3 separate regions of the Homo sapiens genome follow, and regions 2 and 3 are each linked to region 1. Evidence: fine-mapped expression QTL. A gene starts in region 1. Each other region holds a variant in brackets. All regions are shown on one strand. Distances are between the middles of the regions. Region 1 holds the start of TRIM14 (tripartite motif containing 14). Region 2 overlaps ANP32B (acidic nuclear phosphoprotein 32 family member B). Region 3 overlaps TRIM14 (tripartite motif containing 14).

Region 1 (10,481 bases):
AGGAAATACAGATGCCCATGCCACATTCCAGACCAACTGAAGCTGAATCTCCAGAGTAGGGCCTGTATGGTCATATAAGCTCCACAGGTGATCTGCAGTACAGTGAAGATGGAAGACTGCATGTGTACCTATTTGCAATAAAGATGAAGAGGACAGCAAGCTCCAGACAGGAGCTGGGACTCAACCCAGATCTCTTAAGTCCTGCCTGGTGGCTCCTTAAAAGTCCAGAAGTGTTGCCCCAAGCCCTCCCTCAACATCTCTGGGAACCGCAGCTGCAGCACGATGGGGGTTCAGTGCCCCTGTTTGCCCCTTACCCAGCTGTGGTTTATTCTGCTTGTATGTCTGCACAGGCCGGATGCTCGTGTTCCTTGTCTTATTCTCCATTTACTCAGTCACTGGGGCTCACTCCCGTCTGATGCACTAGCCAAGATTGCCTTAGTGTGCTCCAGAAAAGAAGGCCAAATCCCAGGCATTGTCAGGGCAGCAGAGCTCTACAGGATAGGCTTACCTTTCCCACCTGTGTGGCTAGCACTTCACAGTTTACAAATTCCTCCCACCTCCACTCAGTGACACATGCTGTTCTAACACAGGTCAGGCAGGCATTACAGTCCCCATGTTCAGAATCAAAGACCTAGCCTCAGAGAAGTGAAGAAACATCATGCCAAGGTCATTGACTGCCAAGCGGTAGAGGTGGGGTTGCATCCAGAGAGCTTCCCGGTATGCCTCTGCACAATGCCATTCCTTGGCCAGCTCCCTCCACCCCAAGGGACCCAGACTGCACACTTAACAAACAGGACACAGGTGTCTTTGAACAAACTTTTTTGTATTATTATTTTTACATCTAGAATAAATTATTTAAATTATTTCACAGCAAGGGAGAGGGATAGGTAATTTTTATCAGATATTTTTTTAAACCATCTGTTTTTTAAATTACATTTTTGTTTATGTTCTTGAGCTGATGTAGTGGAACTTGCCTAGCACATTCAGGTCCCAGCCAGTTGGCAGAGCATGCTCTCATCTCCTTATTCCATACCCTGGGCGTCCCCTTTCTGTTGACTCAGGAACTTTCTGAGAATGAGGACAGCACTAGGAGATGAGCTTTGGCAGGTATCCACCTTAACGCTACAATAATTGTGCTTCCTGAAACAAAACTTGAGATTGTATCATAGAAGGAAACAGGAAGTCAGAAATCAAATCTATGCTTTTAATTGAAACCGTGCCTGAAACAGTTTGAATGATTGTTTTAATGTTGTTTCTGAAATTCCTTGTACCTTTGTGAAAAATAATGATAATAAATAAAAGTGAAAATAAATAGATGTGGAATATGCAATGGAAATAATGTAACAAAATAATAAACATCTGGCCATTTTACTACAAGGAGCTTTCCTTTTCTTGATTTGTTCCACAAATACCAATTAACTATCTACTCTTGGAGTCAGACACCAAGCTGGAAAACAGGCAGAACAGACAGTCTTTGCCCTCTCCAGTTTTCAGTCATGGCTGCGGGAATGGGGAGGGCCAGGATAGGGAAAGCATAGGCTGTTCTGGAAGGAGAAGGAGGGAAGGCTTCCTGGAGGAAAAGATAGTAAGGTAGAAACCTGCAGAGTAAGTTGGAATACTCAGGGCAAAGGGCATTTGGGAAGAAGAATGTTCCAAGCAGGGTAAACTGCACGTCCCCCAGTCTTGAAAAAGCACAGGGTGGAGCATAGGCAGGGCGGAGACCAAGGATCTTAAGAAAGAGCTGAGGGCTTTATAAGTGGAAGTCTAGACTTGAGCCTGGGGGGGCAACTGGAATTTGGGGTGGTGGTGTGTGTGTGAAAGTTGTCAGTACCAAAACAGAGTCACTTACATCAAAACCAAACTAAATGGTGCTCCTGTAGTCCCAGCTACTCCAGAGATGAGGTGGGAAGATCACTTGAGCCCAGGAGTTAGAGGCTGCAGTGAGCTATGATCGCACTATTGCACTCCAGCCTGGGCAACAGAGCGAGATCCTGTCTCAAACAAACTAAATGGTGCTGGGAGGCCATGAAGTGGGGGGCCCTCATCAACGATTTGCCTGGTAACAGGAACTATTATTGCAAAAGATTCCACCAAACTGCAACCTTGCACAAAGAACCACAACCTTGCACAAAAGCCATGATATGAGGACATCTGCCCAGCAACTGCCTGTTCAACTTTTGGACTGAAGCCACCTGTATTAATTCTTGTAACCAAGTATTATTATTTTAAAACGATCTGGCCGGGCGCGGTGGATCACGCCTGTAATCCCAGCACTTTGGGAGGCCGAGGCGGGCAGATCACGGGGTCAGGAGATCGAGACCATCCTGGCTAAAACAGTGAAACCCCTTTTCTACTAAAAATACAAAAAATTAGCCGGGCGTGGTGGCGGGCGCCTGTAGTTCCAGCTACTCGGGAGGCTGAAGCAGGAGAATGGCGTGAACCCGGGAGGCGGAGCTTGCAGTGAGCAGAGATGGCGCCACTGCACTCCAGCCTGGGCGACAGACCGAGACTCCGTCTCCAAAAAAAAAAAAAAAAAAAAAAAACAAAAACAAACAAACAAACAAAAAAAACAGTATATGCAATCCTCCTCGTTTTGCCTTTAAAAGCCTCTGCTTTCCTTTGCCTCCCTGAGTACTCCGCGTCCCCACCCCTTGGGTGCCATGGCACATTTATTCCCGAATTGCAATCCTTCTGCTCAGTCCGAAATAAACTCAATTGGAGAATCTCTGTGTCCTTATTTGAGGTTGATGAAGGTATCTTACAGTTGTGGGAATGATTATCTTTCCGGGGAAAAGGGCAAGAGAGGATCAAGGGAAAGTGAGAGGAGCACCCCCGGAAGGTCACAGCCAACTTTGGTCCCATCATCAGGGCTGCAGTTTTCTGGGCGTTACTGGAACAGCGTCATTAAGCAGGAAGCCCACCCTCTCCTAGCTGGCTCATTAGGAGCTTCCCATTTCTGGTGGGACCACCTCCCGGCCTGGGCGGGCAGAGGGAGCACCCTGCTGGTCGGAGGATGCTCCGAGGCCCGACGCTGCTCCCGGCGGGCTGTCATCCTCCTAGGGGTCGGCCGGCCGGCCTGGAGCCGCCCCGCCCACGGCCGAGGTTTCGGTTTCCCTTGGGAGCCCCGCCCTGTGTCCCGGGGAGCCGGAGGAGGTGGAGATGAATGGCGGGCGCGGCGACCGGGAGCCGGACCCCTGGGAGGTCGGAGCTTGTCGAGGGATGCGGCTGGCGCTGCCCGGAGCATGGCGACCGCGTGGCTGAGCTCTTCTGTCGCCGCTGCCGCCGCTGCGTGTGCGCGCTTTGCCCGGTGCTGGGCGCGCACCGTGGCCACCCTGTGGGCCTGGCGCTGGAGGCAGCGGTGCACGTGCAGGTGGGGACGATGGGGACGGGGTTCGCCGCGCGGGAGTTGGGGGAGCCAGCCCAGGCATAACGGCCGAGGAGGGGGCGTGCCTGGCCGTGGCCAGTGGCGGGTTACAACCTGGAAACCAAAGGTGCCCCAGAGGGCGTCTAAGCGGTCGACCGAAAGTTCAGAGCGGGAGCCTGAGACCCAAGGAAGGGCAAAGGCGAGCCAAAGCCATCAGTTGAGCTTCAGAAAAGGTGGGTTTAGGAGTGAGAGGTTGGGAGCCCAGGCTGGTACCCAGATGTCCTTGACCGTGTCCACCATGGCCGATCCGCCACACTGCCATTGGGCTGGAAGACAGTCTGCCTTTTAGTTAACAGAGGTACAAACTCTCCCTCTTAATAAACAGCCCTGTGTAGCTCAGAAAGCCACACAGACATCTCAGGTTTACTTAATCTGCAGTCCACAGAAAGGGCCTGTGAACTTTGAGCTGAGGACGGCCTGACTGCCCTGGGAGCAGCCTCAGCTGTCACTACCTACCTCCTCTCCCCTCCCCGGCCACACAGACACTCCCATTCCTGCTCATAGCAGCCCTGGGTGAGCCATTATTATTACAGCCATTTTATAGGCCACAAGAGGAAGGCTCTGGAGGCAGGGGCAGGCCTTGAACCCAGGACTCCATTAGCCAGATGCCCCCAACAGGGCCATTGTCACCGTGGAACCCTTACCCATGCATAATCCTAACAGTGCCCCAGGGGCTCTGGGCTCCTGCTCCAGCTTCCCAGCTGACTTTTTCTGTGGCTTCTCTCAAATCCTTCTCTCTCTCTGGGTTTCATGAAGCCTGGGTGAGGTAGGCCCTCATGTCTGACAGCTGTTGATCCTACCACTTGTCTCCAAGAAGTCTTCTGTGATGAATTCAGCCCCATCGTGAGCCTTTCTCCGGTACTGCATGACTCCAGACCACCACACTGTGACAACCTTGGAACTCCAAGGTGAAAAGGGGATCATGGGGGACAATCCAGTGGAGTCGTGGGCTCAAGACCTGTCCCTGCCACCAGACCCTTCCTTTTTTTAACGTATGAAATGGCTGTAATTATAATAATGGCTCCTTGAAAAACTGTTATTCAGAATTAACAAGGCTGCTTTCCACAGATCTGGCTCAAGAGTCTCACCCATCCATTTGTCCATCCCCCTACCCACTACCTACTGTCAACTTGAAGTAATAAGATTCAGAAAATATGATTAAGTACAGAGTTTATCCAAGCCTAAAGCTTGAGGATGGCCAACTGGGACCATAGATTCAAATTTCTGTGACTATCCACTCTGATTAGCAGCAGTTACATATAAGTTTTTAAGGAAAAAAGAAGAAGCAGTTCCTAAATTGTTTACCAAGAATTTACATTAAAATGACATAAGCAGTCGGGCACAGTGGCTCATGCCTGTAATCCCAGCACTTTGGGAGGCTGAGGCAGGAGGATCACATGAGGCCAAGGGTTTGAGGCCTGGCCAACATGGGGAAACCCCGTCTCTATTAAAAAATATGAAAATCAGCCAGGTGTGGTGGTACACATCTGTAATCCCAGCTACTCAGGAGGCTGAGGCATGAGAATCGCTTGAACCTGGGAGATGGAGGTTGCAATGAGCCGAGATCACGCCACCGCACTCCAGCCTGGATGACAGAGTGAGACTTTGTCTTAAATAAATAAATAAATAAATAAATAAATAAATAAATAAAACAGAGAATCTCTATGGCAGAACAACACCAAACCTATTCCACTGGGGAGTCAACTAAAAACATCACGAAGAAAATCCCAAGCCTTCTTTAAAAGCCAGGAATTGGCTTCTAAAACTTTTTCTACAACCTTCCTTGTTGTAGCCAGGAAATAATTCAGGATTTAGTCCAAATTGCAGGAAAATAAAAACTAAAAAACAATGGCCAGGGCTGGAATCTAATAACAGGAATAACAGGTGTGCATAACAGGTGTGCTAAGATTTTCTTCTGAAACATAATTTTTCTCTCTCTAGTTCCCTGTTTTTACCAAAAATGAGTCTTGATAGGACAAATTTACTTGCAAAGTAAGTTTTAATATTACACTTGGCCTGATAATTTGCATTATTGGAACTTTCATAAGGAATTTTGGATTTGACTTTTTTTTTTTTTTTTTTGAGACACAGGGTCTCACTCTGTCACCCAGACTAGAGTGCAATGGCATGATCGTGGCTCACTGCAACCTCCACCTCCCAGGGTCAAGCAATCCTCCTACCTTGGCCTCCCAAGTAGCTGGGACTATAGGTATGCACCACCACACCTGGCTAATTTTTTTTTTGTATTTTTTTTGTAGAGACGGGGTTTCACCATGTTGTCCAGGCTGGTCTAGAATTCCTGGGCTCAAGTGATCCTCTTGCCTCAGCCTTCCAAAGTGCTGGGATTATAGGCGTGAAACACCACGCCTGGCCTGGATTTGACTTTTAAAAGCCTTACAGCTAAAAAGCCAAACCAAGGATTCACCATCAGACTATGCCTGTGATACCCATACACATTGGGTGAATTATTCTCTTCTCAAGGTCCCAAAATATCTTGAGGTTCCTAGACCTGTCGGAAAGTGACATTCTTTTCTTACCACAAGGTCGGGAACCTTGTAAGGGAACTGTGTAGACAAGGACCAAGCTAGTCCAGTCTTTCCAAGGATTTTTTTTTTTTTTTTTTTTTGAGACAGGGTCTCACTCTGTTGCCCAGGCTGGAGTGTGGTGGTGCAATTTTGGCTCACTGCAGCCTCCACCTCCCAGGTTCAAGTGATTCTCCCACTTCAGCTTCCTGAGTAGCTGGAACTACAGGTGTGCACCACCACTCCTGGCTAATTTTTGTATTTGTTGGTAGAGATGTGGCTTCACCATGTTGGCCAGGGTGGTCTTGAAAACTCCGACCTCAAGTGAACTGCCCACCTCAGTGTCCCAAAGTGCTGGGCCCCCTTTTATTGTATTTTATTTTATTCTTGTTAACATTTTTTAATAGAGGCGGGGTCTCACTATGTTGCCCAGGCTGGTTTCAAACTCCTGGACTCAAGTGATCCACCTACCTCAGCCTCCCAAAGTGCTGGGATTACAGACCTGAGCCACCAAGCCTGGCCCCCAAGGGTCTTCTTATGGGCTCTGTAAACTTGACTTCAGTTCCTGAAAGCAGTCTGATCATATATGAAGATATATCATTTCAGTCAAAGCCTTGGTAAAATTACCAGTGTCTCCAATGTGGTCTGTTATGAAAGAAAACATACTCTTATTGAACTTATGCAAATAACTATATTGTCATAAAATAAGAATACTCACAAATAGCCAGGTGCGGTGGCTCACGCCTGTAAACCCAGCACTTTGGGAGGCTGTGGTGGGCGGATCAGTTGAGGTCAGGAGTTGGAGATCAGCCTGGCCAACATGGTGAAACCCCATCTTTACTAAAAATACAAAAATTGTGCTGGGCTCAGTGGCTCACGCCTGTAATCCTAGCACTTTGGGAGGCCAAAGTGGGTGGATCACGAGGTCAGAAGTTCGAGACCAGTATGACCAACATGGTGAAACCTATCTCTACTAAGAATGCAAAAATTAGCTGGGCATGGTGGTGGGCACCTGTAATCCCAGCTACTCGGGAGGCTGAGGCAGGAGAACTGCTTGAACCCCACGAGGCAGAGGTTGCAGTGAGCCAAGATTGTGCCACTGCACTCCAGCCTGGGCAACAGAGAAAGACTCCACCTCAGAAAGAAAAATTAGCCAAGCGTGGTGGCATGTACCTGTAGTCCCAGCTACTCAGGAGGCTGAGGCAGGAAAATCGCTTGAACCTAGGAGGCAGAGGTTGCAGTGAGCCGAGATCATGCCACTGCACTCCAGCCTGGGTGACAGAGCAAGACTCTGTCTAAAAAAAAAAAATTAATTTAAAAATGAAAATAAAAAAAGTAAACACAAATAGTTTGCAAATTTTGGTGAAATCAGGTAGAGAGAAAGACAAATGTTTCAATTTTGCTCACAAAAGTATCTTTTATCCAGTTGCTGTGACAAAAGAAAAAATTTTCTTGACTGAAAAACAATATAAAAAGAATCAGCAATGTTTCAAATTTTAAAAATCATAAAAATCACTTTTATCCTCTATCAGTTTAGTCCCATGTAAATAATTCTTGCTCTGCTTGATGTTGGGTTAGCAGTCTTCATGAATGCCTCAGGTTTTTATTAGAGTTCTGGAAGCTTTTGCTTAATCCAATGGTAAGATCTCTGAAGTTACCAGAAACCTGTATTCAAGAGTACTTGTCAGGGTTTTTTTCCAAAAATTTCCTTAAAGATGAAGCAAATTTTGTAGCTGATTATAAACGACTTTTTTTAAAAGAATCAAAGTAAAATAAAAATTGTCGGCTGGGTGCGGTGGCTCACGCCTGTAATCCCAGCACTTTGGGAGGCTGAGGCGGGCCGATCACGAGGTCAGGAGATCGAGACCATGGTGAAACCCTGTCTCTACTAAAAATACAAAAAAATTAGCCAGGCGTGGTGGCGGGCACCTGTAGTCCCAGCTACTTGGGAGGCTGAGGCAGGAGAATGGCATGAACCCGGGAGGTGGAGCTTGCAGTGAGCCGAGATTACGCCACTGCACTCCAGCCTGGGCGACAGAATGAGACTCTGTCTCAAAAAAAAAACAAATTGTCTGTGGATGATAAAAGGCTTAGAATAGCCACGGTCAAAGATGAAATTGACTAGGATATGTGGTTATTTGTGTGGCACACACCAGTTTATCATAATAATTATGATAATGATATACTGATAACATATACCAAGACATATCAGACTTTTAGGAATCTCATACAATTTTGGAACACATTAATAATACGCTTTTATAAATATAACTCAAAGAAAGTTAAACATCATTTCTTATTTGACAATATTTCCCATATGACTTTGACATCCCAAATAAGCCTAATGTGTCTCTTTTGGACTTCCAGGGGTCCTGGTTATGCCCAAGTTAGCTTGGGTCAAAAAGACTTAATTTAATTTTGGGAAGTATCTCAAATATTAAAGGTTTAAAACACTTGATATAGAAATAAGAAAGGTTTAAAACACATGATCAAAATAGAATCACAGGTCACTACAAAATAATGGTAATTACTTTAGCCAAAATGATTATTCAAAGATTTCAAAAAGCAAAAACCACTCTGATAGAGGAGATTCAGTTCTCAATCAAGAGACCTAATAAAGACAGCATGGGACAAACTCTCCCCAGTTACCTTTTCTTTGCCATTTATGCAAAAGTAAATACATCTTTTACCGTCTCTTATTAATTCTACATTACATTTTTATTCAAAGGAGAAAAACAAGTTTTACTTTTAGGCCAGGCACAGTGGCTCATGCCTGTAATCCTAGCCCTTTGGGAGGCCAAGGCAGGCAGATCACTTGAGCTCAGGAGTTCAAAACCAGCCTGAGCAACATGGTGAAACCCTGTCTCTACAAAAGATACAAAAATTAGCTGCGTGTGGTGGTGTGTGCCTATAGTCCCAGCTACTTGGGGGGCTGAGGCAGGAGGATTGCTTGAGCCTGGGAGGTCAAGGCTGCAGTGAGCCAAGATTGCACCACTGAACTTCATCTTGGGTGACAAAGTGAGACCCTGTCTCAAAAAAAGAAAAAAATTACTTAGGTGTTAGTATATTATCTATCATCCAATTTCAGTCAGCTTTGACTACACAAGATAAGATAATCGATAATCTCTCACCATTTTCTATTAAAGAGCAGATCAATGCTCTGATAAAACCTGGTTGTTCCAACACAGGAGCCCAGACTCTGGCCTTACATGAGTGTGCTTTTGATATTAATACTTAAGTTTTAGAAAAACTTATAAAAAATTCCTTCTTTTTTTTTTTTTTTTTTTTTTTTGAGATGGAGTTTCGCTCTTGTTGCCCAGGCTGGAGTGCAGTGGCATGAACTGCCTCACTGCAACCTCCACCTCCCAGGTACAAGCAATTTTCCTGCCTTAGCCTCCCGAGTAGCTAGGACTACAGGTGCACAACACCATGCCCAGTTAATTTTTATATTTTTAGTAGAGACGGGGTTTCACCATGTTAGCCAGGCTGGTCTCAAATTCCTGACCTCAGGTGATCCACCTGTCTCGGCCTCCTAAAGTGGTGGGATTACAGCCATGAACCACCGCGCCTGGCCATTTCCTTCTGATTTTTTTTTTTTTTTTTTTTTTGAGATTGAGTCTTGCTCTGTCACTCAGGCTGGAGTGCAATGGCGCAATCTCTGCTCACTGCAACCTCCACCTCCCAGATTCAAGTGATCTCCTGCCTCAGCCTCCTGAGTAGCTGTGATTACAGGCGTGCACCACCACACCTGGCTAATTTTTGTATTTTTAGTAGAGACGGGGTTTCTCCATGTTGGTCAGGCTGGTCTCAAACTCCTGACTTCGTGATCTGCCTGCCTCGGCCTCCCAAAGTTCTGGGATTACAGGCAGGAGCCACCACACCCTGCCATTTCCTTCTCATTTTAACCAATTTGATCACATACAAAATGTCTTTTGTGAGATTAATCTTCCACAGACCTTCTAGAATTTGCTTAAATCTTCAGTTTTGTCCTATACTTCCTTTTTATTTTGGCATTCTACCTTAGGACAAAAATTTACTTCCCTTTTCCCATTATCATTTTGACTACACAAAGTTCTCTCTCATGCAAAAGAAAAATTACTCTCTTTCAACAGTCTTTACCAAAAACACATCTGACTTTATACACTCTGTAAATAGAACTGTTTCTTTTATATCAAGTAGTTTTAATCACATATGTTAACTACAATTTTCACTCTTAGTAACCCAAATTTCCAGTGAAAAACCTAGGAAGTAAGTAATTTTTAGCTGTTTTCTACCAGCATTTGTAGATGAAAATAATTTCATAATTTCTAGAAAGATGGCTCCTCAATTTTTTTTTGTTAACAGATCGAAATATATTTAGCTTTTCTATACCATATAAATGATTCAGACGTTTTATAATGACCTATTACTTCATTTAACATAACATGATATTAAGTTACTGAAAACAATTTTTGTTTGTTTGTTTTTGAGACGGAGTTTCACTCTTGTTGCCCTGGTTGGAGTGCAATGGTGTGATCTTGGCTCACTGCAACCTC
Region 2 (10,481 bases), 100 kb after region 1:
CACCCTTGATCTGCACTCTGGGACCTTGCAAGTGACCCTGAGCCTCAGTTCCCTTGTCTGAAAGATGGGGTCAGACATCTTTGAACAAGACAAGAATGTGCAAGAGCCTGTAAAGTGCAGTGAGCCACGGACACATCAGGGGCCATCACTCCCTTTGTCAGAAGCAGGGCTCAGGCAGTTCAGTGGCTGGTCAGGACTGAGCTTGGCAGGATGGTTGTAGGTAGGATCTGGACAGGTAGCTGTCGGGGGAACTAGGTGGCTACAGAAGCAGGAAACAATGGCCCCATGTTCCAGCAGGAAGGGAGCCTAAGGGCAGATCGGGCCCTGACCAAGTCACTGGAATGGACAAAGCCAGGGCTGGATGGGAATTCCCATTCTTGGGGCTGGCAGGTCCCTTCACCCACTGTCAGACTCCCCAGCGCCAGGTCACTCACTCTGCGCAGATGCTGGCTTCTGACCCACACATTGCTACTGTGACTCCCAGGTGCAGCTGATCTAGCACCAGCTATGCAGAACCACTTCCAGGGATTTCTTGTGTGCTCAGGCCCTGGCTGGATGCACGCTAGTGCAGTCTATCACCGACAGAGGCCCATGGCATAGGCTGTCCCCAGCTCTTCTTAAGTTACTCCTCATGGGTATCCTGCCCTGTCATGCTTATCGACTCAGAGAGTGGGCAGGGCTCTCACAATTTATAAATGAGAAAACTGAGCTCCAAGAAGCAAAGGGTCTTTTGCAAGTTCTCTAAGATGGTATATGACAGGGCTGCCTCCCACAGTGTGAAATTATCATAAGAGTTGTAGTTGTAAGTATTTTTTTTTTTTTTTTTGAGATGGAATTAACTTTTGCTGCCCAGGCTGGAGTGCAGTGATGTAATCTTGGCTCACTGCAACCTCTGTCTCCTGGGTTCAAGTGATTCTTCTGCCTCAGCCCCCCAAGTAGCTGGGATTACAGGCACCCACCACCATGCCTGGCTAATTTTTTGTATTTTTAGTAGACACGGGGTTTTACCCTGTTGGCCAGGCTGGTTTCGAACTCCTGATCTCAGGTGATCCACCCACCTCAGCCTCCCAAAGTGCTGGGATCACAGGCGTGAGACACCATGCCCAGCCAGTTGTATTTACAGTGCTCGCTGTTTGCCTGTGTCCCTAAGCATTTTATGGTTCCAACTCTGACAACTAGTTCTGTTCACGCCCTGTCCTGAACCTTTGGAACCAATGAGTCTTGTTAGCTAGTGTCTACTTTGCTCCCTGCTTTGGACTAAGGGAGAAATAAGTCCACTGACTTTCTCATCAGAACTGAGCCAGGAGCAAGGGCCCTAGGGAGGGATATATGGCAACATACAGCAGCTTTGGGTTTGGGCAGAGCTGGGTTTGGATCCCAGCCTGGTCATCATTACTAGCTACATGACATTGGATAGGGCACTTCACCTCTAAATCCTTCAGTTTCCACATCCATAAAAGGGGATTATAGGTTATTTTTCAGGGAAGTTGAAGACTAAATTCCTCTCAGTAAATGGCCATCAATGGCAGATGTATGTACTAACCTGCATCTGTAATGCTACTAGATGACTGACTAGTCTGGCCAACTTATGTATATACCTGTGGCAATTTCTGGAAGACACCTCCTTCACTGAAAGTGCAGCACTCATCTGGCCCCATGCTACTGGTCTATCCTTTTCAATTCCATCAGCCTAAACATAGCTCTGACATTTTCTACTAGCCCAAACCCTTACCTACTCCTTCAGAGGGTAACTGGGAGTAACGGCATGAAATACAATTAGTATTCCTATTGCTGGTTAGGCTCACGGTGAACCACATGCAGATTTGTACAGCTGAAACAACCTGCAGGCTCACTTAGCTTGGGCCTCGGAGTTTCAGTTGAGGAACTGGAGGCTCAGAGGGGAAGTGACAGAGGGGAGCAAATACCATTCAGTGGCCAGGTTGGGGCTAGAATATGATCTCTAGATTCTGTTTGAGGCCTCCCTCCCCATACCTCCACTCTTCCTCTGCCAGGGCTGGCGCTGGGGAGTGCTGTCTTAAACACAGAGACCCCAGGCCCCTCCTGGCCAGGGGTCAAGTCCCCTTAATCAGAAATAGAGTTAACTCTGGCCAGGTGCAGTGGCTCATGCCTGTAATCCCAGCACTTTGGGAGTTCAAGTCAGGAGGATCACTTGAGCCCAGGGGTTTGAAACCAGCCTGTGCAACATAGTGAGACCTCATCGCTACCAAAAATATTTAGCCAGGCATGGTGGCACGCACCTATAGTCCCAGTTACTCAGCTGAGGTGGGAGGATTGTTTGTGCCCAGGTCGAGCATGCAGTGAACCATGATTGTGCCAGTGTATTCCAGCTTGGGTGACAGAGTCAGACCGTCTCCAACAACAAAAAGCAATAGAATAAGGGTATTTTCTCCATATGCCCTCCCAACACCCCTGGGACAAGTTATAAAATACCCACTTGATCAGAGATTATTAAGCTGACCTAATTGGCTCTGAGGACTTCCACACTCACTGCAATCTTGGTGATTTTCCTGCAGAGCAACTGTTTGGCTGGCTGCAGCTTAAGTCTACTAGTAACTTGATTCCCTTTCCAAACTGTCAACACGGCGGTATCATCAGGCTCATTAAAATTGATGGCAGCACAATGCAACAGAGCTGGAGAAAACTGGAAGGTCATAGCATAGTGTACAACCACTTTGTGCTTCTGTCTCACCTTTCTCTGGCGATGGGGTAGGTAGTGTAGCCCAGATAGGAATGCCAGGAACAGGACGACTCAACTCTCCTGTATCTGTCCTGGAGTATGTACCAGGAGTCCTGGTGGTGGTGATACAGGAGCGGGTAGGGTGCAGTATCTTACACAAGGTGGTTTGTGCATTTCCACGCTGGCCACTATCATTCTTCAGGTGCTGGACTCCTGAAAGAGGAGTGAACTAAAGGTAAGAGCAGAGGTTGAAAACAGGGCGCCATGGACCGGGCACAGTGGCTCACACCTGTAATTCTGGCACTTTGGGAGGCCAAGGTGGGTGGATCACCTGAGGTCAGGAGAGTTCAAGACCAGCCTGACCAGTATGTTGAAACCTCGTCTCTACTAAAAATACAAAAATTAGCCAGGCGTGGTGGCGGGCGCCTGTAGTCCCAGCTACTCGGGAGGCTGAGACAGGAGAATTGCTTGAACCCAGGAGGCGGAGGTTGCAGTGAGCCAAGATTGTGCCACTACATGTCAGCCTGGGCGACAGCGAAGACTCCCATCTCAAAAAAAAAAAAAAAAGAAAAAAGAAAATAGCTTCAAAAAGATGGCATACCAATGTATCACACATGTAGGTGTGTATGTAGAACACACCTCCACCAACCTCGGAGCAGCTAGTCAGGACCAGTCATCTAGCCCATCATAGCTGCCACCCAGCTCAGACATTTTATAACTAAACTTACTGCAGAAGCTGGAAGCAAACCCTCTCAATGTTCTCCTTCAGATGGGAGACAACTCCAAAAATAGTCTGCTGTGTGACCTCATCACCAAACAGCTTGCTTCTCTGAGGACCATGTCAAAGGCATCTTCACTGGCCACATACAGGTGACATCAATATTTTACTATAATGCACAAAAAGGCTTTGACCTTCAAGGCCCCCTACAAGAGCCCAAATGACTTGTCCAGTATTATCATCTATTCATGTGTTGTCAAATCTACTTGTATCTAACTGTACTCAGCAGTTTCCTACCTTTAACCTCTGCTCACCAAGATACTCCCTTCTCTCTCTATTCCTATTTATAGACGCTATTCACACTTGCATGTGCAGCTGAAGTACTTTCTTTTCTAAGAAGCTTCCCTCCCTCCAGGTTGGGTGCCATCTCTCCAGCCTCTGAGCTACACTAAAACTTACCTAAACCTCTTGCTCCTAGGTCCTAGTAAATATTACTTGTGTTGATGTCTTTTCTTCCTGACTAGTTACTATGAGCACCAAGGGCTGGCTTGTCTTTTTAACCCAATTCCCTTCCCTTTTGCCCAGCCAATAAGCCTGGCATATCCTACAGGCTTGGTAGATACTGGGAAGTTCTGTAAACTTTAAAAAACAACTAAAAACAACAACAACAACAACAAACCGGGAAAAATAATCACTCAAAGTTACTGTGTTTGATATTTGACAAATAAGCAAAACCTTAAGGACACACTTAGGCTACAGAAGAAACCATTTTACAATGTATTGAAGGTTTGCCAAAATGGCCTTATGGTTGGGGAAAATGATGTGTAATACCTGTAAAATCAGAAATCAAATTTTCTTGGATTTTCTTTGCAAAAAAGAAACTCCATTTTAAAGTCTATGGGAGATTTTGATTTTAAAGTACAGTATTTGGGGGCTCCATAGAGACTGTGACTTGTTATAAATTCAAATTAGATTCCAATTTTACATATTGCATTTACATGCATCAAAAACCTCACTCATTCCAGCAGCTATAAGCTAAAATTTACTGAAACAATCCTTAAATCTTCCACTATAAAAAACTGTATTGATAATGCAGTCATACATCTATTTTCGCTAAACGGTTAATCACTGAATACAGACAGAATATCCTCCTTTCTCAAATCCCTTTAAGATCTGTAAGAATAGAGAAAATTTCCATCTTATGGAAAACCTGAGTTGACCTCAGGCAGTGCCTACCCACTGCTTGGTGAGGCTTTTCACATGTCATTCCCCCTTTTCACGCCTGTCTTGGCAACAAACCATACTGTGTTCACCCATCAGTCAAACCCTACATGCTTCAGACTAGTGGAAAGCCCATTTTTCTCTTCAGACCTTCCTGTCAGCAAGGGTCACAGAACATCAGTGCTACAAGTGACTTCAGAAGCCATTTGGTCACACCCCTTCAATTTTCCAGACTGGGTGGTGACCCAGAGTCAACACAAGGTCACACAGAAAATCAGTGGCAGAGCCAGAACTAGAATTCAGATCTCTTGGGATTCTGGTGAAGGCCTTTTGCTTTACACTATC[T/A]TCTTTCCCTTAATTCACATAATACTTGAACCTAACATTTTACTGGTTTTCAGGGCCCCAGAGTATTCCATTTTGAACGTTATTTTTTAAAGTATGCTTCATTTACTCCCAGTTATCAATGAGGATTTGATCTAAATGCTCAAAGATCCTACACACTTGTGCAATTCCCCTCAACAACTACTAATATAAAAATGCCAAATAAACCAGTTCTTTGGTGTTTTAACATGAGCTTACAATGAGAGTATAATTTAAAAATGTAAGCATACAACTAGGCTTTACCAAAGAGTAACTGTTTATTTCGCTTAAATTCTTAAAAATACTTTTTTGGCAGTTGTCACATAAAATGTCCTAATGTAAAAAAAATAATAATAATAATTAAAAAGCAAAGCATGAAAAAACAGACCCAAAATGTTAAGATTTTATTTACAAAGCTTTTTTGTTGTACAGAAAGTAAAAATGCTGTTACAATCTCAGTGTAACTGGTAGCCACAGACGGTTGACTCACCAATCACAGCTATCCACGCTACAGCAAGAATCTTACACAAAAACCTAACAACGCTTACAATTTTGTTGGGGTGAAGTCCACAAGCTTGGTGGTAGATTACCAAGAGGGACTACATGGAAGGAAGGCGGAATGTCACAGGAACTATTCTTTGGCTCTTTGGGTGGGTGGGTGTCCTGGGGTTTGTATCACAGCTACCTTTTTTTTTTTTTTAAACAGCTACAAAATCCATGAGCAGTCCAACCAATACTGAACAGTTCTGTTTCTGCAGGTCATCTGGGGTCTTAATCATCTTCTCCTTCATCATCTGTTTCTCTCTTCCTCTTTTCACCTTTCCCACCTTCTTCCTCCTCTGTACAGTAACAAAAATTGACTTTAGGACAGTGGAAAGGCATTTTGCTTAGATTATTGCCAATGGAGGCAACAACAACAAAGTTTTTGACAGTTAGGAGATAAAACAATGTAAACTTGATCAGATTAATATAGGTGACTAATAGCAAGTATAAGTGGTGACCACAGAACCAAGAAAAGCAAAATGCACAGCAGCACCTCAACTCACCCAGGAAAAGTTAATCCAGTTTCCTCGATTTTAAGGTGTTGTCTTCCAAATGTTTCTTTTTACAAATCTAGCAATTATTAAAGTGCTTATTATTAACCTGAGCTGGTCAGGCCCACTGGCTCATGCCTATAATCCCAGCACTTTGGGAGGCCAAGGCAGGCAGATCACCTGAGGTCAGGAGTTCCAGACCACCCTGGCCAACATGGTGAAACTCCGTCTCTACTAAAAATACAAAAATGAGCCAGGCATGGTGGCATGTACCTGTAATCCCAGCTACTCTGGATGATGAGGCATGAGAATTGCTTGAATCCGGAAGGCGGAGGTTGCAGTGAGCTGAGATTGTGCCACTGGACTCCAGCCTGGGTGATAAGAGCGAAACTGTCTCCAAAAAAACAAAACAAAACCCCTCGTGCTATCTAGCACGTCTTCAAGACATGCTTACTTTCAAGTGATCTCAGACAAGCTTAACCTCTTTAAGCCTTTTTCATCTGTAAAATGGGGACAATGGTACTGACTTTAAAAGGTTATTCTGAGAATTAAATAACACACAAAACATAGTATGGAACATCATTAAGACTCAAATTGTAGCAAACTAATATTAACTAAAAAGGAAATTCTTAAGAGTATTATGTAGTCGAGACACAGAGACTTACATATAGACCAATTTTTTCAACTAATAAAATCCATGGTTATTTTAATGAAATTAACTATATGTTAAATCATATTTCATACAGGTTGTTTTTTTTTTTGAGACAGACTCTGGCTCCGTCGCCCAGGCTGGAGTGCAGTGGCTTGATCTCGGCTCACTGCAAGCTCCGCCTCCCGGGTTCATGCCGTTCTCCTGACTCAGCCTCCCGAGTAGCTGGGACTACAGGCGCCTGCCACCACACCCGGCTAATTTTTTTGTATTTTTAGTAGAGACGGGGTTTCACCGTGTTAGCCAGGATGGTCTCGATCTCCTGACCTCATGATCCACCCGCCTCGGCCTCCCAATCATACAGGTTCTTAAAGGCAGTGACCAGGTCCTAACCAGGGTAATATCTAGTGTAAATGTAATTGAGAGCTTGACAAAGTGGATGCTGAGAAAACATCAGCCAACAGCACAGTGAACACCTGATTTTCTGAGACACAACCATGAGACTTTTTATTTGAGACAAGGTCTCCCTCTGTCACTCAGGCTGGAGTGCGGTGGCACTATCATAGCCTCACTGCAACTTCAAGCAGTCCTCCCACCTCAGCTTCCCAAGTAGCTGGGACTATAGGTGTGCACCACCATGTGCAGCTAACTTTTTTTTTTTTTTGAGACAGAGTCTTGCTCTGTTGTCCAGGCTGCAGTGCAGTGGCATGACCTCAGCTCACTGAATCTCTGCCTCCTGGGTTTGAGTGCGTGCCACCACGCCTGACTAATTTTTTAATTTTTAGTAGAGACAGGATTTTACCATGTTGGCCAGGCTGCTCTCGAACTCCTGACCTCAGGTGATCCACCTGCCTCGGCCTCCTAAAGTGCTGAGATAACAGGCGTGAGTCACCACACCCGGTCCCAGCTAACTTTTTAATTTTCTGTACAGACAGGGTCTATGTTGTCCAGGCTGGCATACTTTCAACAGTATTAAATAAGTAACAGCTATTTCATTTGTCTTGGTTGTAGTGGGGAAAGGACTAACACTGACAAAACTGGGAAACTGCTACATCTATTTATATATCCTGAAAATGATGGTTCAATTATTAAAGCCTTTTTTTAAAAAATGAAAGAACTCCAAACACAGAAACTCACACTTGACAGTAAACCAAATGACTGGTCCTAAAAACACATTTAAAACATGGGGAACAGGCTAGGCATGGTGGCTCACACCTGTAATCCGAGTAATTTGGGAGGCCGAGGTGGGTGGATCACTTGAATTCAGCCAGGAATTCAAGACCAGGCTGGCCAACATGGCAAAACCCTGTCTCTACTAAAAATACAAAAATTAGCCAAGTGTGGTGGTGCATGCCTGTAATCCCAGCTACTGAGGAGGCTGAGGCAGAGAATCCCTTGAACCTGGGAGGTGGAGGCTGCAGTGAGCTTAGATTGCACCAGTGAACTCCAGACTGGGCGACAGAGCAAGACTCCATCTCAAGAAAACAACAGGCCGGGTGTGGTGGCTCACGCCTGTAATCCCGGCACTTTGGGAGGCTGAGGCGGGTGGACCACGAGGTCAGGAGATTGAGACCATCCTGGCTAACACGGTGAAACCCCGTCTCTACTAAAAATGCAAACAATTAGCTGGGCGTGGTGGCAGGCGCCTGTAGCCCCAGCTACTCTGGAGGCTGAGGCAGGAGAATGGCTTGAACCTAGGAGGCGGAACTTGCAGTGAGCCGAGATCGTGCCACTGCACTCCAGCCTGGGCAACAGAGCGAGATTCCGTCTCAAAACACCACCACCACCACCACCACCCCGAAAAAAACCCCATGAGGACTGAAGACCAACAGGACCCTTGCCATGAGACAGGAATAACTGCTGTAGCAGCAGGGAGCCTGCACCAGCACAGACACACTGATGGGACGATAGAAACGAGAATGTGAATGTGTAAACCACCAGAGCCAAGAGTATTTTATTTTCTTCTCAGTGGTATCATATTCTAAATAATGGATGTTTTTCTCTAATTTTTAACTGAGAATGATCAAAATGCATGCATTAGGCCCACCTTCATCCTCATCCTCATCTTCATCTTCTTCATCAAGTCCAAATTCTTCTTCCTAAAGAATAGCAAACAGCATAACATTAAATTAATTCTGCCAAATTGAAAAGTGCATATAGTACAAATTCTGCCAAACTAAGAAGTACAAATAAATGCAACAATATCAATCAAGCAGGAAACTGTAATGTTATTTTTATCTACTTTGATGTACCAAGACCCACTGATTTTCCTTAACGAGCTTTATAATTTTTCTAAGAAAAATTTTTTTTAGAAGCAAGCAGTTCATTTGCTAGATGTTTAATTAGTATATAACTCTGGATAATTCAAGAAAACATCTTAAAATCTCAAATTTCAAAACAGATTTAGACAAAAATTTCTATATCCCATTCATATACAAAGCTTCTTTCAGAACTTTAATGTCAATCATACACCTAATGACATCACACAAACCCCAAGCCTTATTTTTATACTACAAAAGAGGATGCGTTTTGTTAACAACTAATGTTGTCTGCCTGTTTCCCAAACCTCTTTGAGGGTCAAAGTCAAGACACTGTTTTCTCCTGCCCTCGTATAGCATTTATTTCCTCAGGGATCCTCTATTATTGGGTATTTCATAAACCAGACTGTGCTCTTTCAGGGCAGGACCACAATCTCATTTCATTTTGTACTCCCAACTCTTTAACATAGCAGATATATATTTACTGAATTACACTGAATATACAAGAAAAAGTTTAGACTTGGTAAACATAAACTTCCCTACAATTCAATGAAGGAACAGACATACCATCAATTCTCAACATGTCCAGTTTTCTCACCACACTGAATACTCAATTCATTCCTTCCCCCAGAGGGCCAGAACTTACCTTGCACAGCCAGGAACCGTACTAGTTTGAGTTCAGTAGGCATTCTATTTAGTAGTTATTTAAAGCCAGACAAACACTAAATTAACCAGATTCATATTGTAAATGTATTCACAGGTATACTAATTTCTTCAAAAGGTGTTTTTTCTTTTCTTTTGTCATCTTTTTGAAACCCCCACTTTTGTTGTAATTACAAATAGGAAGCAGGGTAGAAAACAGCTGCACTGACCTCCTCACTGACTTCATCGTCGTCCTCATCCCCTTCTACATCTTCATCTTCATCATCTTCTTCATCAAACTCCTCTTCTTCACCATCCTCATCGTCCTCGTCTTCCTCATCTTCTCCTTCTAAAAATAGTCCAAAAGGGATTCATTAAATATCCTCGACGCTCCACAGGGGACAAAGTGTTGAGGATCTGTGGGCTGGCTCACAGAACAAATGCTGTAAGGCCACGAACTGCAGTCACTTTCTTTCTACTATGTGCTACAGCTCAGTCCCTTTGTCCGATAGAGTCCCATAAAATCAGAGAGCTAGAAGTCCTGGTAGATAAGACAAACACTATAATTCTCGCTGATGAAATGATACAATGGCTAAGATTTGCTTCAAAATTATATGGAGTGGGGAAGAAGGTAAGGGTATGCAGGAATAAAATAAGATCAGCTATGACCAATAATTGCTGAAGCTGAGTGATAAGAACATGGGGGTTCATTTTGCTATTATTTTTACCCTTTGTCACTGTCTGAAATTTTTGACAGTAAAAAGTTAAAAAAAAAAAAATCATGTACCTTCTCTTGGGTATCATTACCAGAGTCACAGTCAGCTGCTCAAATCAGGAACCTGAGAAACACCCATAATAACCCTGTGACTCAGGGGACAGGAGGCTGAGAGGCACCTGCATC
Region 3 (10,481 bases), 21 kb after region 1:
GCTACACGGCTGAGGCAGGAGAATCGCTTGTACCCGGGAAGCGGAGGTTGCAGTGAGCCGAGATCTTGCCATTGCACTCCAGCCTAGGCGACAAGAGCAAAACTTCGTCTGAAAAAAAAAAAAAAATTGATAGCTATTGTCGTATTGTCCTCTAAAAGCGAAGTACCAATAGACCCTACCACCCACAGTTTATATAAATGCCCTACTTCACATACCCTTACAGACTGTATTTCAGTCTCTTAAAAGTCTTCCAATCTAATGATCAAAAACTATTTTCTGGGCTGGGCATGGTGTCTCATGCCTGTAATCTCAGCATTTTGGGAGGCTGAGGCAGGTGGATCACCTGAGGTCAGAAGTTCAAGACCAGCCTGACCAACATGGTGAAACTCCGTCTCTACTAAAAATACAAAATTACCTATGTGTGGTGGTGCGTGCTTGTAATCCCAGCTACTCAGGAGGCTGAGGCAGGAGAATCGCTTGAACCTGGGAGGCAGTGGTTGCTGTGAGCCAAGATCGCACCACTGCACTCAGCCTGGACAAGAGTGAAACTCCTTCTCAAAAAATAAAAATAAATAAATAAATAAATAAAAATTGTTTTGTATTTCATCTAATTGATTTATTCTTTGGGCTTTATGTACAGTGTTTTAGTTTAACTGGACCTTCTCTTTTGTTTGTTTTCCTTAACCTTTCATTGTGGAAAATCTCATATTATTTTAATTATTTTTACTTTTATATTTTTAGTACAAAAAATACAAAAATTTGTTCTAAAATGCCACTGTTACACCACACATACACATACATACATTTCCATATATAATTTGAGTTCTTTTAAAAGCTCTTTATTTTGTACTTTTGACCTCTTATCTATGCTTGAGCCACATGGTTTTAGATCCTGTAGATTTATTGTTTTGTTATCAGATAAGGCAGATAAGGCAGATAACCTCTTATCAGTTTTCTCTTTATTGATTTTTTTAAAGCAATTTTGGCTTTTCTTATGCTTATTCTCTCTCCTAATGATTTAATAATTTTTAATCAGCATGTTAAGATTTTGATTAGAATTTCATCAAATTTATAGACTAATTTAGAGACAAATAGTGACTTTATAGTAATCAACCCTCCCAGTCACGAATATGGTTTTGTATTAGGTATATTTCCACATATTTTGCTATTTTTTCTCCCATTTTCAAAAGGATCTTTATTTCTCCGTGCATTTTACGATCGGTGATGGGCTGGTGCTTAGGAAAGCTTTGGTTTTTATAAGTTGATCTTGTGTCTGACTGGCCACTTTACTGAACTCACATTTCAGACGTTATGATTTTTTTCATGTTGATTATTCTGGATTTCCTGGTTGGCAGACATGTCATCTGCAACTGGTTTTTCTGTTTTTAGGCTAATGCAGAGTCAAGTAAAACCTGGCTGAAGGGGAAATTCACTGAACTCAGATTACTACTTGACGAAGAGGAAGCGCTGGCCAAGAAATTCATTGATAAAAACACGCAGCTTACCCTCCAGGTGTACAGGGAACAAGCTGACTCTTGCAGAGAGCAACTTGACATCATGAATGATCTCTCCAACAGGGTCTGGAGTATCAGCCAGGAGCCCGATCCTGTCCAGAGGCTTCAGGTAATGCTGGGGTCACTGCTCTTACTGCTGCCACCTGCCACCCACACTTCATCTCAAGTATTGTGGCATTGAGCACAGTATTGACACACTAAGCAAGTACATGGACTATTGTCTTGTCACCATGTAGACTGTCTTGCCCCCACACAGGTGGTCAAGAGAATATACATTGTTAGGAAGATAATACACCTCTTGGGCTAATTAAATAATATTAACAGCCACCAATTTCAAAGGCCCCTGTGTCCTGAGCACTGTGTAGTTTAGCACTAATATTCACCAGAACTCTGCAAAGTGGGCTCACCCCATTTTATAAACAAGAAATTGAGGCTCAGTGAAGTGACTCACCTGGTCTCACACAGCAGGTAGGTAGCAGAGCTGGTATCAGGTCTGGCTGTCTGTCTAGGTCTGTCTGACTCTAAACCCACAAGGGACCCTGCCTGGCCCTCTGACTGTACAGTCTTTTTTTTTTTTTTTTTTTTTTGAGATGGAGTTTCTCTCTTGTTGCCCAGGCCGGAGTACAGTGGTGCGATCTCAGCTCACCACAACCTCTGCCTCCTGGGTTCAAGCAGTTCTCCTGGCTCAGCCTCCTGAGTAGCTGGGATTACAGGCATGTGCCACCATGCGTGGCTAATTTTGTATTTTTAGTAGAGACAGGGTTTCTCCACGTTGGTCAGGCTGGTCTTGAACTCCTGACCTCAGGTGATCCGCCCACCTCAGCCTCCCAAAGTGCTGGGATTATAGGTGTGAGCCACCGCAATCAGCCTGCCTTTATAGTCTTAAATTGAGACACCCCACCTGAAAAGGCAGGTGTCCTTGCAGCTACTGAGCACATTTCAAAGGCTGAGTCACAGCTGGCTCAATGGTACTCCTTGGCCACTGGGCTTTGTTGAGGAAGAGTCTAAGAAATAGCCCCTGTGGCAGATCACTTGAGGCCAGAAGTTTGAGACCAGCCTGACCAACATGGCAAAACCACCTCTCTACTAAAAATACAAATATCAGCCAGGCGTGATGGCGTGCACCTGTGAGGCTGAGGTGGGAGAATCACTTGAATCGGGGAGGCAAAGATTGCAGTGAGTAACGAGATCATGCCACTGCACTCCAGGCCGGGTAACAGAGTGAGACTCTGTCTCAAAAAAAAGAAAAGAACTAGCCCCAGGGATAGTCATTGCTACATTTAGAGAAAGCATGTTGTTGAGGATGGTGTTCCTGTCTACTTTTTTCTTTTTTTTTGAGACGGAGTCTTGCTCTGTCGCCCAGGCTGGAGTGCAGTGGTGTGATCTCGGCTTACAGCAAGCTCCACCTCCCACCATTCTCCTGCCTCAGCCTCCCGAGTAGCTGGGACTACAGGCGCCCCCCACCACGCCCAGCTAATTTTTTGTATTTTTTAGTAGAGATGGGGTTTCACCATGTTAGCCAGGATGGTCTCCATCTCCTGACCTCGTGATCCGCCCCCCTCGGCCCCTCAAAGTGCTGGGATTACAGGCGTGAGCCACCGCACCCGGCCGATGGTGTTCCTGTCTTTAGGGAACCGTGGAAGAAACTGTTGTCTGGTGTCAATATCCCTGTGCAGTCACTTCTGCACTAGAATTGCTTTTCCACTAATAGAGCTCCTCCTGTTTCCTTCTTTGCCTTGGGAAGTTCAGAGCCAAATCTGCTTTGACTAACCAGACTAAGGCTTCATGGCAAACACTTTGTGTCTAATTTTCTCTTAGCTTCATTTTTCTCGCTATAAAGAAAAATCTTGCCTTATTAGAGGACCTTCACAAGACACTTTAAAGGCTGTGGGACAAGGCAGGGTACAACTAAAAGTGGCACCAACTCTAACCACAGATTAGTATGGGCTCTGGCTGGAAAATAAGACAGACAAATAAGCCAGTCAACACAAAACCCGCCAAGCCAGTCTCCAGCTGGGGATTTCCACTCTTGTGTCTTTATGTGGCCTCAGTCGGTTCAGCCTGTGTCTCATTGTCAGCTGTTTGAGCCAAATTCTGGATGAAGTGTTTTCCTAGGCATAATGGGTGTTGTGCTTTAAGAGAGGCAAGATGCACAAAGTGTTACATGTAATTGTCTCTTTTTAAATAATGGTCGTTTTTAAGGCTATGGAATACAAAGGAATCCTTCCATGGAGAAGCATGCTATTCTCACATCAGAAAACGGTTTCAGGGCTTTGTCATCTTTTTTTTTCAAATTCTCTTGGGCCACAGCTAATGATTTTAATCATTCACCGTTCCCACCTTCTATGTGTTCATTCGTTTATTCATCAATATGTACTGAGCCAGGTCACTTGCTGGACATTAGGAGCTCACAGTTGGGTGGGGGACTTGCTCAGAAACAGTTATTTACAATACAGCTTAAACAATTTTGTAAATATGAAGCTAGCAAAATTATGTCCAAGAAATGTCTGACACTCTCTGGCTGGGAGAAGGATGCAGTCTGGGAAGACTTCTAGGAAGAGGTGATGGTAGGGTTGGGTGCTGGACAATGAGTAGGAGCACACTGTATATAGAGAGGACGCAGAGAGGACAGACAGGAACTGTGTACATGTGAGAGCTTGACAGGCTGGGGAACCAGCTGGGGTGCAGCCTGACTTGAGGAGAGGTGAGGGTATAAGGGTGGGGGGATTGAGAGACACAGCTGGATCCATAGGCCATAGTTAGTTCATGAAGGCCTTATGTGCCATGGAGTTCAGACTTTGTCCTGTAATGAGATAGGAGACAGGAATGTTTGTTTGTTTGTTTTTGAGACAGGGTCTCACTCTATTGCCCAGGCTAGAATGCAGTGGCTCAATCTCAGCTTACTGCAACCTTTGCCTCCCAGGTTCAAGGGATTCTCCTGCCTCAGCCCCTGGAAGAGCTGAGACGACAAGCACGTGCCACCATGCCCAGCTAATTTTTGTATTTTTAGTAGAGACAGTGTTTCACCATGTTGGCCAGGCTGGTCTCAAACTCTTGACCTCAAGTGATCTGCCCACCTTGGCCTCCCAAAGAGCTGGGAGGTGTGAGCCACTGCACCCAGCCCAGGGGAGTGTTTTGAACTGAGGGATGAAAGCATTCACATGGTCAGATTAGTGCTTTAGAAAAGTCACTTTAGAGATAGAGTGGAAGATGGACAGAGGAGGCCAGGATGGGAGGCTGGAAGAGAACTTGGGAGGAGGCCACAATGTCCAGGAGAGAGATGATGGTGGCCTGGACCAAGACAGGGGCAGTGGGGATGGGGAGAAACAGGCAGGTCAAGAGATGCCACAGGAATGGAGATTGGAATTGGAGAATGGGTAGGAGGAATCCCCAGATGATGCCTGGGTTTCTGGCCTGAGAGATGAAGGGCTGGGATTTCTGTTCTCTGAGTCTGCAAAGGCAAAAAAGTGGCTGTGCTCGGTTTCATGCATTGATTTATTCCATCATACATATGTTTTGAGAACCTGTGTGTCAGGTCTGGTGCTAGCTGCTGGAGTTTGGGGTTACCAGGTGGTGCCATGTGTCCTCTATCGACCCCTCATCCTACCCTACTCATCTGCCCTCTGAGCCCCCTCTCGCCTCCCCGGAGCTGCTCCCTGCCCACCCTGGACTTCCTGCTAGTGCTTGGTCTCCCCTGGCCAGCTCCATTCCA[G/A]CGCTCTGGGTGTGACCTTAGGCCTGGTTCCCCACCAAAATGAGGTTGGACTCTATAGACTCCTGGCCTCCTAGGCTGAATGGGGCTTGCAGGCCATCTCACAGCCCCCTCCCAATGTACAGCATGCTGCCAGGTGGGATCTGCCCCTGCCCAACAGCCAAGTGCTAGGCCACCCTCCCTCCCTCCTGAGGCCCTCATCTGTCCACCCCTTCTCGGGTGGGCAGCACTGCCACTGCCAGCCAAGCCTGATCACCTGAGGCAGTCATCTTCCTTCCAACTCCTGGCCAGGACAGAGCTTCAGAAAATGCAGCCATGGTTCTTACCTGCAAACATGAGAATCCACTGGAACTGTTTTAAGCAAGAAAGGAGTTTATGGAAGAGTATGAGATAGCCCATAGGATCTCCAGGAGGGCCAGAGAGTCGGGATGGAAGATGGGCAGCAGGAATGAAGTCCAGACTCCAGCAGGGGTTGGTGCCAGTATAGGCCCCACGGCACCCCTGCTGGGCAAGACATCACCACTCACACCACTGACCAGAGCCCCCACCACTGCTGTCCCTCAGTGCCACATGCCACCATCACTACCTTCACCGTCATTTCCAAATCCACGCTTTGGCTTGGAGGCGTCTGGTCACACTCCTGCAGCACAGGTGCAAAGGGAGCTGGGAGAGGGGGTTTTCTAGCTTCTCCTTAGTGAAGCCACATACCACAGGAAAGTATTGAAGAGGGGCTGTCCAGGTGCAAAACAGGACACATGTCCCCTGCGGTGGCCACACCCCCTCAGTCAGCACTGCAGCTGAACCTTGCTGGCCTTTGGCGTCCTTCTTAGAACATGGTTTCCTGCTCCACCTTTGAATAAGCTCCAGGTGCTCCTTCCCCAGGGAGACTGACCTCTCACCCTTTTTGTACCCAAGGCAGACCCGTGGCGCAGTGTGTGTGAGGCTGAAGCCTCTCTGGGAAGGGCCCCGTGTCAGCCTGACCCTGCCTTCTGCATGCATAGCTGGCACAGAGTAGGTTTCAATGAACACGTAAGGAAGGAAGGAAAGGAGGAAGGATGGAGAGGGAGGAATCCCCAGTGCCAGCACTGAAAAACCGCACCTCCGCATGGCTCCCACCTCAGGGATGCCGTATGGTCTCTCCAGGGCTCTGCTCCTGCAGGCATGGCCTGGGCTGACCATAGGTGCCAGGCCAACGTGGAGCCTGGGCATGCTGGTGTGGGTTTGTTCCTGGGTGCAGCACAGGAGGCTGGGATGCTGCCTGCATCTCCCAGAGCCACCCTCACCCCCGTGTGCCCACACAGGCATACACGGCCACCGAGCAGGAGATGCAGCAGCAGATGAGCCTCGGGGAGCTGTGCCATCCCGTGCCCCTCTCCTTTGAGCCCGTCAAGAGCTTCTTTAAGGGCCTCGTGGAAGCCGTGGAGAGTACATTACAGACGCCATTGGACATTCGCCTTAAGGAAAGTAAGTCGCCGAGTGACCAACTTTGTGTCCTTAACTCCCCTAGTGTCCTTTAGCCCAGAGACGAATGCAAAGATCATCTCCCTACATCCTGTCTCTCCCACACTGAGGCCCTTGGCTGGGCGGTCAGGGGCTCCTGGGCCTGGTGCCCAACCCACCCTCACCACTTCACCTCCAACCCTTCCTGAGACTGAGACCTGCCCTTCTCCAGTCACACTGCCCTGCTTCTGCCCCTCAGATTGCTCCTGGGAGCCTGCCACATCTCAGCCTTGCTCTGGGCTCCCAGCTGGAATGACCAACTCTTCCTCCTTCTCTTCCTCTGGCTGGGGCCAAGGCCTGGCACCCCTTCGAGGCAGACTGGCACAGCTGCGCCCACCTGGGAAGCCCTTTCCTGCCAGCCCAGCCCTGACTCACTCTCTCCTTTAGCCATCTCCCCTCTCCCTTCCCGCTCCAGGGCCTGCCCATGTCCTGCTAGAGGGTGCTCATGAAGTGGATACATGGACCCCCCTCCTTGCCCCTTGTAAGCACGTGAAGGGCAGAAACCAGCTTTAGGTCCAACTCTGAGGTCCCCCCAGGGCCTGGCACAAAACATGTACTCAAAAATATCTGTTCTTTGATTCATTTATGCATTCATTCATTCATTCACCTCTGCTATCATGATTCATTCAGAACATTTATCAAGCCCCTCTTATATGCCAGGCATAGCAGGGCACAAAACAAAGCTCCTTCTCCTCTTTTGGTGCTCACAGTCTTCGTAGGGGAAGACAGACCGTACACAAACATGTCAGGTGACAGGAACTGCTATACTGCTATAAAGAATAATAAAGGCCGGGCGTGGTGGCTCACGCCTGTAATCCCAGCACTTTGGGAGGCCGAGGTGGGTGGATGATGAGGTCAGGAGTTTGAGACCAGCCTGGCCAACATGGTGAAACCCCATCTCTACTACAAATACAAAAATTAGCCAGGCATGGTGGCATGCACCTGTAATCCCAGCTACTCGGGAAGCTGAGGCAGGAGAATTGCTTGAACCCGGGAGGTGGAGGTTGCAGTGAGTTGAGATCATGCCACTGTACTTCAACCTGGGTGACAGAGCAAGACTCTGTCTCAAAAATAACAATAATAATAATAATAATAAACCAGGGCAGGATGGAAGACAGGAAAGTGACAAGGAGGAGGAGCTGTTTTATATAAGCAGTTGGGATGGCCTCTGAGAAGGGGACACTCAAGGTGGCCCAAAGGAAGCATTCATTCTGCAGGTTCTGTGGGTCTGAAGGGCCAGAGAGCACAGTGGTCATAGGCACGGCCTCTGGAGCTAGGCCTCCTGGGTTCCTATCCGAGGTCTACCACTTGGAACCCTGCTGAACCCTGCCATCTTAGACACGGCTCCTCCCTTTTCCATGCCTCTGTTTCTGCATCTGTAAAGTGGAGACCATAATGCAGTCGCCTCTCCTGGGCTGCTGTGAGGATTAAATGAGCTCTTACACATATAGCGCTCAGGCATATTAAGCACCACGTATGTCTTGGCGATTATGATTGCTGCTGCTGTTACGTCTGGGGGAGGTATTCTAGACAGAGGGAAAAGCAAGGGTGGAGGTCCTGAGGCGCGATGGGAGTGAGCTGGCCATATCGAAGGAGCAGCAATGGGGACAACAGGAGTGGACGTAGGGTCACAGGGGAGAGAGGAAAGAGATCAGAATCCAAGGATTTGGACGTGGGCAACTCGCAGAAGGAAACTGTCATTTTCTGAAGTGAGAAAGAGTATTTAGGACTGGAGGGAATGAAGTGAACCTGTTAGATTTGAGAAGTTGGACTTCCCATGTGGTGGTATCGCCTCGGCAGTAGGACCTATGATTCTAGAGTTCTGGGGAGAGGGGAGAGGCTTTTGCCTTGATGAAAGAACAACTTCAGCCAAATTAAATTTAAAGGAGTTTAAATGAGCAATGAACGATTCATGAATCCGGCAGCCCTCTGAGCCACAGTGCACTCAGAGACTCCAGCACAGCCACGTGGTGGAAGAAGATTTAGGGACAGAAAAAGGAAAGCGACGTACAGAAAACAGAAGTGAGGTACAGAAGCAGCTGGATTGGTTACAGCTCGGCGTTCGCCTAATTTGAACACAATTTGAACAGTTGGCTACATCTGATTGGCCAAAACTTGGTGATTGGCACAAGTGCAGGCTACGGTCTGTTTACACCTCCACTTGTTATTGTTCATGACGTACAGAAAAATATGTAGGCCGAACTTAAAAGATGTAAGGAGGAGCTTTAGGCAAAACTTGATTTAAACAGCCTGCAGGTGGGCTTCCCACAGATCTCTACAGGCCCCTGTGATGAGTGCTGGGAGTGATGGGGGCGGAAGGCACTTCTGCGGAGGTGCTGAGTGAGCTGCGGCCCCAATAGCTGGGAAGGAGGCAACCTGGGCAAGGGGGGAAGGGTGTGGGGGGGCTGTCCAGGCAGAGGGCACAGCAAGTGCCAAGGGCCCTGGGTGCCCCTGCTGTGCCCGCTTGTTGGGATAGACTCCCCTCCTTCTTTCTTTCTGAGCACTCAGACCTTCCTGAGGACTCAGCTCTACTTTCTTGTTTTCCATCTTTACCCTGGAATCTGCACATCTTCCCTGAGTCGCCGCCCATCCTTGAGTGTTGGATCCAGTAGTTGTTCGCGCCTCAGCTCCTCCTCCTATTTAGGACTCTCCCACACCAGCCTTGTCATCCTGGGGTTTTCCTGTCCCTGTGAATTCACATAAATCCCTTAAATCTGCCTGGCTCTTGGGCGAGATTATGCGAATCTCCAGTTGTGTGGTATTTTTAGCACGTCTTATTTGTCTGCTTGCATAAGCTCCGGGCGCTCATTTCTCAACAATTCCTTACAGGCATAAACTGCCAGCTCTCAGACCCTTCCAGCACCAAGCCAGGTACCTTGTTGAAAACCAGCCCCTCACCAGAGCGATCGCTATTGCTGAAATGTAAGACCCCCGGGAGTGGGGATAGGGTGGAGACGGTGGAGATGGTGGGATGTTGGGTGGAGGAGGATCATGGAAATGGAGGTCCCTCTTTTTTTCTCATTAGAATTTATTTATTTATTTATTTTAAGAACTTGTTTTTTAAAAAATGTTTATTATTAAAGGCAATAAAACAATACATGTTCATTGTAGAAAAATTAGAAAATGAAAGAAAAAAGTTACTCATAATCCCTCTTCTGTGAATAACTGCTATTATTATTTGTCCTTTTAGCTTTTTTAGCACATCTAATATGCATATAATGATATATTTAATATATCTTTTTATGTTACAAACGTGGTGTCATACTATACATACTGTTTTGTCATCTGTTTTCATTTACTGATATATTATGAACATATATATATTTGGGATTTATACAGTGAGCCACTGTGCCCAGCTAATATTATCACTATGTGTGTGTGTGTGTGTGACCGAGTCTTGCTCTGGAGTGCAGTGGTGCAGTCATGGCTCACTGCAGCCTCGACCTCTTGGGCACAAATGATTTTCCCACCTCAGCCTCCCTCATAGCTGGGACTATCAGTGTGTGCCACCATGCCCAGCTAATTTTTTATTTTTATCATTGTTTTTAGAGGTTGCATGGCATTGCATTGAATGGATGTGTCATATTTAGCCAATCTCATAATGTTGGATGTTTACATTTTCATTTCTAAAACAATGCTGTAATAAACATCCATTCTTGTACACATTTGTTGAATTGAATTAATGAATGAGAGAATGAACACACCATACCTCATTTTCAGATTATTTTTTAGGAGTAATTTCTCAAGTGGAATTACTG

The links. PIP is the estimated chance that this variant, and not a neighbour inherited with it, causes the effect. A credible set is the group of variants that fine-mapping cannot tell apart.
Region 2: its variant is the best candidate, but not a certain one, in a credible set for the expression of TRIM14 in whole blood (INTERVAL, PIP 0.52).
Region 3: its variant is the best candidate, but not a certain one, in a credible set for the expression of TRIM14 in whole blood (INTERVAL, PIP 0.86).

What each region holds. Positions count from the first base shown.
Region 1 is chr9:98,111,871-98,122,351 of GRCh38, reverse strand. It overlaps TRIM14 (tripartite motif containing 14), which reads left to right and starts at 3,130. Exons shown (of 6, transcript NM_014788.4): 1 at 3,130-3,370. The coding sequence starts at 3,164. It overlaps CORO2A (coronin 2A), which reads left to right. Exons shown (of 12, transcript NM_052820.4): 12 at 1-1,377. RefSeq lists a silencer at 3,197-3,296 and an enhancer at 3,607-3,656.
Region 2 is chr9:98,010,719-98,021,199 of GRCh38, reverse strand. ANP32B (acidic nuclear phosphoprotein 32 family member B) reads right to left here. Exons shown (of 7, transcript NM_006401.3): 5 at 9,811-9,929; 6 at 8,728-8,779; 7 at 5,257-5,836. The coding sequence ends at 5,769. Among named protein-coding and RNA genes, the nearest start is that of ANP32B, 33 kb to the right of the region's middle. RefSeq lists an enhancer at 10,322-10,391. The variant T/A (reference allele first, on the strand shown) is at 4,983.
Region 3 is chr9:98,091,073-98,101,553 of GRCh38, reverse strand. It overlaps TRIM14 (tripartite motif containing 14), which reads left to right. Exons shown (of 6, transcript NM_014788.4): 3 at 1,390-1,623; 4 at 6,525-6,687; 5 at 9,553-9,645. Among named protein-coding and RNA genes, the nearest start is that of TRIM14, 23 kb to the left of the region's middle. RefSeq lists an enhancer at 10,343-10,481. The variant G/A (reference allele first, on the strand shown) is at 5,227.